Linked DNA regions of Homo sapiens: regions 2 and 3 are each linked to region 1. Evidence: fine-mapped expression QTL. A gene starts in region 1. Each other region holds a variant in brackets. All regions are shown on one strand. Distances are between the middles of the regions.

Region 1 (2,841 bases):
GCCCCGCCGGGCCCGGCCCCGCCGCCGCCGGCCTCGTCCTCGAGCATCTCGGCGTCCAGCGCCTCCTGCAGCCGCTGCGCCAGATCCACCTTGAGGCCGCGCGAGTCCAGGCCCCGCCGCTGCAGCTCCGACCGCAGCTCGGTCACTTTCAGCCGCTTCACCTCCATCGCCGCCGCCGCCTCCTCCGCCTCCCGCCGCCTCCTCCCCTGCGAACCGTCGACCGAGTCCGACCGCGCAGGCGCCGCCGCCGCCGCCCGCCTCCGCCTCACGCGCCAGCACTGAGCCCGCGCGAGCGAGCGCACGCACGCAGGAGCGGAGGCCGCGCACGGTCCCGCTGCGCAGTGTTTGCTTCTCCTTCGTCTCCCCTCCCCCTTTCGGCTCACGGAGCCCAAAACAACGCAGCAGGGAGCTGTTTCCCCTCCAGGCCCTTGGTTCCCCAGCCGCGGGCAGGCGCGCGCGGAGGACGACGGAGTTCCTCCCGCTTCCTCCCGCCCTCTGGCGCCCCCGGGCCAATCGCCGCCGGTGCTTTTATCGCGCAGCCGCAGTGGAGTCCAAGACGGGCAAGGCTGGCTGCAGCTCAAGTGCCTCGTAGCACGGAAGCGTGTGCGCGCCGGTCTTTCAGTACTTCCAGCCGGGGAGTTCTGCGCAGCCGCCCGGAGCTCCCCGATGCCATGCCCCTCCCACCACCCTTACTTCCGTCTGACTTCCATTTGCTGTGGCGTTTTAGGGGTCGCTAGCCTCTTTTCCCTACTGTCTGTGCTTGCAGCAGTAACGACAAAAAAAAAGTCATTAGAGAATGTGTTGCAACATGTAAGCCTAGTAGCAATTGTTTTTCTGGCTAGGAAGCAAAAGGGCTCCCCAGAACGAAGAAATACTGTAATCCGGGCCCTCCTTTTTCCTCAACGCCTCAACTTCTACCCAGCAACAGAGGCCCTTGAACCCGCCCTTTTTCTCTTATTGGACAACTTGAATCGTCATTTGCCGTTCCGATTGGTCATCCGTGATCGTCCGGATTTTTCCAATTGGCGAAGCTGCCAGGGGAATTTTTTTTTTTTTTTTTTCCCAGGTTGGTCCGCTGAGGAGGCGGGGTCGTTTCTGCGGGATTATTTTTCCGGAGCCTCTTCTGATTGGGTGGTGTGGCGCAATGCGCGCGACCCTCAAGATACCAAACTGTACGCATCTCTGACCCTTTCCTCTCCTTGCTCCTGCTGGTAAACCGAAGCCCAGGAGACTTCCAGGTTTGGGCATCTGCAGAGGGCGAGGAACTGGTCACGGCGCCGGGTGGGCTTGCAGCTGTGACGCTTATGTGGACACCTCAGTGTCGCTGGTGGTTCACCTCGGCTTCCCAGTTTATTTATTGACGTCAACAAATAAATGTTGAATAAGGAAGAAGAGTTAGAATTGCTTGAAGCCCTCTGGAGTTTTAGCACTAGTCCCGCCCACTCCCTTCTACTTCCAGGTCGGGGGGGGGCGGGTCCAATAGAAAGGCGGAAGCCAGTGTCCCAGGCGTTCTCACGCCCGCAACAATTCCTGAGTAGGGCCTTGCTTGAGTTCTTCGGAAAGTCTCATCCACCCCCACATCGCCTCTTTAGGAAGTCACTTAATGTTGGGCTTCATTATTCCCACATCCCTTTCCTTACTACTTGCCTGCACTTCTTGAGAAAAAGACTGCAGAAAGGAGAGGTGGGGCTTTCAGTAGAAACAAGCAAACCGCAGGTCCCTGTGGGGGGACTCTCCAGGAAGAAGGGTAATTTCCTGCCTCCTTAAATTGGCTGCTACTGTCAGTTATTTTGCTCCCAACCCCAGAGCTTCACTTGCTCCTTCACTTCCCAGTTCCGCAAGAACCGTGGGCGACAGTTATGGAGAAGCGTCTGCAGGAGGCTCAGCTGTACAAGGAGGAAGGGAACCAGCGCTACCGGGAAGGGAAGTACCGAGATGCTGTGAGTAGGTACCATCGAGCTCTGCTTCAGCTGCGGGGTCTGGATCCGAGTCTGCCCTCTCCGTTACCTAATCTCGGACCTCAGGGCCCGGCCCTCACGCCTGAACAAGAAAACATATTGCATACCACCCAGACAGACTGCTATAACAATCTAGCTGGTAAGAACGGGGCTAAAGGGTGGCTAGAGAGCATTAAGACAGGAACATGAACATCTGTGAACATTGGGGGAAAAAACGCTGACTTTTTTTTTTTTTTACTGTCATCCATTTATTCTGCCATGAATTGGAATAACCTGTCAATCTGTGCGGCTGTAATTAAGTTGCCATAGAGCAGGGCTTCTCAGACTTCACCTGGAGAGTCTGTTAAAACACAACCTCCTCGGCCCCATCCCCAGAGATTCGGATGGGTCTGACGTGGGGCCTATCAGTTTGCATTTCTTTATTTTTTTATTTTATTTTATTTTATTTTATTTTATTTTATTTTTTTTTGAGATGGAGTCTCGCTCTGTCTCCCAGGCTGGAGTGCACTGGCGCGGTCTGGGCTCACTGCAGCCTCCCCGTCCCGGGTTCAAGCAATTCTCCTGTCTTAGCCTGCCCAGTAGCCGGGATTACAGGCGCCCGCCAGCCACCACGCCCAGCTAATTTTTTTTTTTTTTTTTTTTTTTGAGACGGAGTTTCGCTCTTGTTGCCCAGGTTGGAGTGCAGTGGCGTGATTTCGGCTCACCGCAACCTCTGCCTCCCGAGTTCAAGCGATTCTCCTGCCTCAGCTTCCTGAGTAGCTGGGATTACAGGCATGCGCCACCATGCCCAGCTAATTTTTGTATTTTTAGTAGAGACGGGGTTTCATAATATTGGTCAGGCTGGTCTTGAACTACTGACCTCAGGTAATCCACGCGCCTCTAC
Region 2 (2,841 bases), 44 kb before region 1:
TACTCCGGCCTGGGAGACAGGGACTCCGTCTCAAAAAAAAAAAAAAAAAAAAGGAAAAAAGGCACAGGGTATTCACTGCAGTATTATAACAAGTGTATTCAGGATAACATATGTATTCTTTTTTTGTTTTTAGAGATGGAATCTCACTCATTACCCAAGCTGGAGTGCAGTGGCACGATCTCAACTCACTGCAACCTCTGCCTCCCTGGTTCAAGCGATTCTCCTGCCTCAGCCTCCCGAGTAGCTGGGACTACAGGCGCCCGCCACCACACCCAGCTATTTTTTGTATTTTTAGTAGAAATGAGGTTTCATCATGTTGGCCAGGCTGGTCTTGAACACGTGACCTCAAGTGATCTGCCCACCTTGGCCTCCCAAAGTCCTGGGATTACAGGTTGAGCCATTAAGCCCAGCGGGGATAACATAGTATTCTAAATTTATTGTAGAGGTTCTATAATAGAATAAATTTTTTTTTTGAGATGGAGTCTCACTCCGTAGCCCAGGCTGGAGTGCAGTGGCGTGGTGTCAGCTCACTGCAACCTCCACCTCTTGGGTTCAAGCAACTCTCCTTTGTCAGCCTCCCAAGTAGCTGGGACTACAGGTGCCTGCCACCACACCCAGCTAATTTTTGTATTTTAGTAGAGATGGGGTTTCATCTTGTTGGTCAGGCTGGTCTCAAACTCCTGACCTCAGGTGATCCAGCTGCTTCAGCCTCCCAAAGTGCTGGGTTTTAGGCATGAGCCACCATGCCTGGCCTTCTTTTTTTTTTTTTTTTTTTTTTGAGACGCAGTTTCACACTTGTTGCCCAGGCTGGACTGCAATGGCGTGATCTGGGCTCACTGAAACTTCCACCTTCTGAGTTCTTTTCTTCTTTTCTTTTTTCTTTTTCTTTTTCTTTTTTTTTGAGATGGAGTCTCACTCTGTCGCCCAGGTTGGAGTGCAGTGGCATGATCTCCACTCACTGCAAGCTCCGACTCCCGGGTTCATGCCATTCTCCTGCTTCAGCCTCCCGAGTAGCTGGGACTACAGGTGCCCACCACCTCACCCGGCTAATTTTTTTTGTATTTTTAGTAGAGACGGGGTTTCACCGTGGTCTCGGTCTCCTGACCTCGTGATCCAGCCGCCTCGGCCTCCCAAAGCGCTGGGATTACAGACATGAGCCACTGCGCCCAGCCCCGCCTTCTGGGTTCAAGCGATTCTCCTGCCTCAGCCTCCCGAGTAGCTGGGATTACAGGCGTGCACCACCATGCCCAGCTAATTTTGTATTTTTAGTAGAGACAGGGTTTCTCCATGCTGGTCAGGCTTGTCTTGAACTCCCAACCTCAGGTGATCCACCAGCCTTGGCCTCCCAAAGTCCTGGGATTACAGGCATGAGCCACTGCCCCCGTCCTGATTTTTAAATTTTTTGTACAGTTAAGGTTTTGATATTTTGCCCAAACTGGTTTTGAACCCCTGGTCTCAAGCGAGCCTCTTGTCTTAGCCTCCCAAAGTGTTGGGTACAGGCATAAGCCACTGCACTGGGCCATATTATTCAGTATTAATTGAAATTTGTATGTGTTACTTTTATCTT[T/TA]AAAAAAATTTTTTTTTTTTTTTGAGACGGAGTCTTGCTCTAGCCCAGGCTGGAGTGCAATGGCGCAATCTCGGCTCACTGCAAGCTCCGCCTCCTGGGTTCACGCCATTCTCCTGCCTCAGCCTCCCCAGTAGCTGGGACTACAGGCACCCGCTACCATGCCTGGCTAATTTTTTTTGTATTTTTAGTAGAGACGGGGTTTCACCATGTTAGCCAGGATGGCCTCAATCTCCTGACCTCGAGATCCGCCCGCCTCGGCCTCCCAAAGTGCTAGGATTACAGGTGTGAGCCATCGCGCCCGGCTTAAATTTTTATTTATTTATTTACTGTTTTTGAGACGGAGTCTTGCTCTGTCTTCCAGGCTGGAGTGCTGTGGCATGATCTTGGCTCACTGTAACCTCCACCTCCCTGGTTCAAGTGATTCTCCTGCCTGAGCCTTCCCAGTAGCTGGGATTACAGGTGCCTGCCACCATGCCCAGCTAATTTTTGTATTTTTAGTAGAGGCAGGGTTTCGCCTTGTTTGCCAGGCTGGTCTTGAACTGACATCAGGTGATCCGCCCTCCTCAGCCTCCTCCTCGGCCTCCCAAAGTGCTGGGATTACAGGTGTGTGCCACTGCGCCCGCCTTATGTGTTACTTTTTTTTTTTTTTTTGAGATGGAGTCTCGCTACGCCGCCCAGGCTGGCATACAGTGGCGTGATCTCAGCTCACTGCAGCATCCGCCTCCCAGGTTCAAAAGATTCTCCTGCCTCAGCCTCCTGAGTAGCTGGGATTACAGGCACATGCCACCAAGCCCAGCTGATTTTTTGTATTTTTAGTAGAGACGGGGTTTCACCGTGTTAGCCAGGATGGTCTCGATCTCCTGACCTCATGATCTGCCCACCTCAGCCTTCCAAAGTGCTGGGATTACAGGCGTGAGCCACCACACCTGGCCCATGTGTTACTTTTATAATTAAAAAAAGTTAGAATGGCCTGTAATCCCAGCACTTTGGGAGGCCAAGGGGGGTGAATCATTTGAGCCCAGGAGTTCAAGTCTAGCCTGAGCAAAATAGTGAGACCCCCCCATCTCTATAAAATATATACATATATATTATTTAAAAAGTTATAATATCCACACAGGTAAGGATTATACTGTGTAGTAACACAAAACAGACTTTTCTACATTCGTTTAATTAAAAAAAATTCAAGGCCGGGGGCGGTGGCTCAGGCCTGTAATCCCAACACTTTGGGAGGCCGAGGCGGGTGGATCATGAGGTCAAGAGATCGAGACCATCCT
Region 3 (2,500 bases), 32 kb before region 1:
TGTTGGTAGCGCCCCAAGACTCAGAGTAGGAAGGCTTCTTCACAGGGATCACCCTCAAGAGGTTAAAGATTTGCCACCAAACATGCCCTAGTTTTTCCTATTTCTATATTCTTCTAGCCCCTTTATTGATTCATATCTGGCAACAAGGCCCTCACACAGTAGTATATAAAAATTACAGGAGTGAGGGTAAAGCTTCTGTTTTTAATTAGAGGTAATGGGTTAAAAAAAAAAAAAAAGGTTAGCCAGGTGCAGTGAGTCATGCCTGTAATCCCAGCACTTTGGGAGGCCAAGGCAGGTGGATCACCTGAGGTCAGGAGTTCGAGACCAGCCTGGCCAACATGGTGAAACCCCCCGTCTCTATTAAAAATACAAAAATTAGATGGACGTGGTGGCAGGCGCCTGTAATCTCAGCCACTCAGGAGGCTGAGGCAGGAGAATCGCTTGAACCCTGGAGGCGGAGATTGCAGTGAGCCGAGAGCGCGCCATTGCACTGCAGCCTGGGCGACAAGAGCAAAACTCTGTCTCAAAAAAAAAAAAAAAAAAAAAAAAAATTTGGAAAATACTTCCCTAGCCCATAGTGAACTACCTCCAAAACATGGGTTCAGCCTTGGGGGTGCTTTCAGTGTTTATCACTAAGGCAATGGTTGACACCACTGATAGGGGCCTTTTTTTGTACCTTCTTATTGCCAGTCAGAACTATCTGTTGGCCGGGCGCGGTTGGCTCATGCCTGTAATCCCAGCACTTTGGGAGGCTGAGACGAGTGTATCACAAGGTCAGGAGTTCAAGACCAGCCTGGCCAAGATGGTGAAACTCTGTCTCTACTAAAAATACAAAAATTAGCCGGGCGTGGTAGCAGGCACCTGTAATCCCAGCTACTCGGAGGCTGAGGCAGAGAGCTGCTTGAACCCGAGAGGCGGAGGTTGCAGTGAGCTGAGATCGTGCCACTGTACTCCAGCCTGGGTGACAGAGCAAGATTCTGTCTCAAAACAAACAAACAAACAAAAAACTATCTGTTGAAGAAAATGGATTCCATGAGATTCCTACCCCCCTGTAGAGACCAGATGATTAAGCCAGTTGCTTCATAAACTTTTTGTGTGTGTGTGTGTGTGTGTGTGTGTGTGTGTGTGAAGACAAGGTCTTGCTCTGTCACAGGCTGGAAGGCAGTGGCATGATCATGGCTCACTGTGCCTGGAACTTCTGGGCTCAATCTATCCTCCTGCCTCTGCCTCCTAAGTACCTGGGACCATACGGACTATAGGCACATGCAACCACATGCAACTAAAA[A/T]TTTTTTTTTTTTTTTGGAGAGACAGGGGTCTTGCTTTGTTGCTCAGCCTATGAATTCTTCCCCTCAACCACTCCCCCAGTCTATTAATTCTTTTCTTTTTTGAGACAGGATCTCGCTCTTGTCACAAAGGCTGGAGTGCAGTGGTGTGATCACAGCTCACTGGCAGCCTCAACCTCCTGGGCTCAGTTGATCTTCCTGTCTCAGCCTCCTGAGTAGCTGGAACTACAGGCATGTGCCACCACACCCAGCTAATTTTTTATTTTTTTGTAGAGACGGGGTCTCATTATGCTGCCCAAGCTGGTCTTGAACTGCTGGACTCAAGCAATCCTGCCTTGGCCTCCCAAAGTGCTGGGATTATAGGTGTGAGCCACTGCCCTTGGCCCAAATTCTTTGAAACATTAAAATAGGTAGTTCTCTTAGCCAGGTGTGGTGGTGCATGCCTGCAGTCCCAGCTGCTGAGGAGACTGAGGCAGGAGGATCCCTTGAGCCCAGGAGTTTGAGGCTACAATGAGCTATGATTGGGCCACTGCACTCCAACCGGGGTGACAGAATGAGACCCCAATTCAAAAAAAAAAAAATTAATCTCCTCCAAAGGGATCCACAGAATTTAATACTAAAACCTTGTGAATAAATCCATGCCGGCCGGGCGCGGTGGCTCATGCCTGTAATCCCAGCACTTTGGGAGGCCAAGGCGGGCAGAAGACGAGGTCAGGAGATCGAGACCATCCTGGCTAACACGGTGAAACCCTGTCTCTACTGAAAATACAAAAAAATTAGCCGGGCATGGTGGTGGGCGCCTGTAGTCCCAGCTACTTGGGAGGCTGAGGCAGGAGAATGGCGTGAACCCGGGAGGCGGAGCTTGCAGTGAGCCGAGATCATGTCACTGCACTCCAGCCTGGGCAACTCCGTCTCAAAAAAAAAAAAAAAAAAAAATTCCATGCCTTTGTCCACAATTGCCTGCTTGATGGGCAGATTCTCCCCCTTCTCTAACATTCCCATGTAATATTCACCCTTCCTTAAAAGATCCGCTTTGGGCCCGGCACAGTGGCTCATGCCTGTAATCCCAGCACTTTGGGAGGCCAAGGCAGGTAGATCACCAGGACAGGAGTTCCAGACCAGCCTGGTCAACGTGGTGAAACCCCGTCTCTACTAAAAAAAAAAAAATACAAAAATTAGCTGGACATGGTGGCATGCGCCTGTAATCTCAGCTACTC

Alleles and levels. Positions count from the first base shown, and alleles are read on the strand shown. Sizes are in standard deviations (SD) of each study's normalised expression.
For the expression in sigmoid colon of the gene that starts at base 1,497 in region 1, TA is the low allele of the variant in region 2 and T is the other (small effect, 0.29 SD a copy in GTEx).
In carriers of allele T in region 3, the expression in lymphoblastoid cells of the gene that starts at base 1,497 in region 1 tends to be higher than with A alone (moderate effect, 0.41 SD a copy in GEUVADIS).

What was found. PIP is the estimated chance that this variant, and not a neighbour inherited with it, causes the effect.
Region 2: its variant is the best candidate, but not a certain one, in a credible set for the expression of TTC9C in sigmoid colon (GTEx, PIP 0.62).
Region 3: its variant is the best candidate, but not a certain one, in a credible set for the expression of TTC9C in lymphoblastoid cells (GEUVADIS, PIP 0.60).

Annotation. Positions count from the first base shown.
Region 1 is chr11:62,726,990-62,729,830 of GRCh38, forward strand. It overlaps TTC9C (tetratricopeptide repeat domain 9C), which reads left to right and starts at 1,497. Exons shown (of 3, transcript NM_173810.4): 1 at 1,497-2,097. The coding sequence starts at 1,860. It overlaps HNRNPUL2 (heterogeneous nuclear ribonucleoprotein U like 2), which reads right to left and starts at 468. Exons shown (of 14, transcript NM_001079559.3): 1 at 1-468. The coding sequence starts at 167. It overlaps HNRNPUL2-BSCL2 (HNRNPUL2-BSCL2 readthrough (NMD candidate)), which reads right to left and starts at 395. Exons shown (of 24, transcript NR_037946.1): 1 at 1-395. RefSeq lists silencers at 1-288, 459-618 and enhancers at 879-928, 1,179-1,378, 1,769-1,878.
Region 2 is chr11:62,683,280-62,686,120 of GRCh38, forward strand. No RefSeq gene overlaps it. Among named protein-coding and RNA genes, the nearest start is that of LRRN4CL, 4.8 kb to the right of the region's middle. The variant T/TA (reference allele first, on the strand shown) is at 1,568.
Region 3 is chr11:62,695,187-62,697,686 of GRCh38, forward strand. The region is part of intron 3 of BSCL2 (BSCL2 lipid droplet biogenesis associated, seipin); the gene reads right to left. The region is part of intron 16 of HNRNPUL2-BSCL2 (HNRNPUL2-BSCL2 readthrough (NMD candidate)); the gene reads right to left. Among named protein-coding and RNA genes, the nearest start is that of LRRN4CL, 6.9 kb to the left of the region's middle. The variant A/T (reference allele first, on the strand shown) is at 1,286.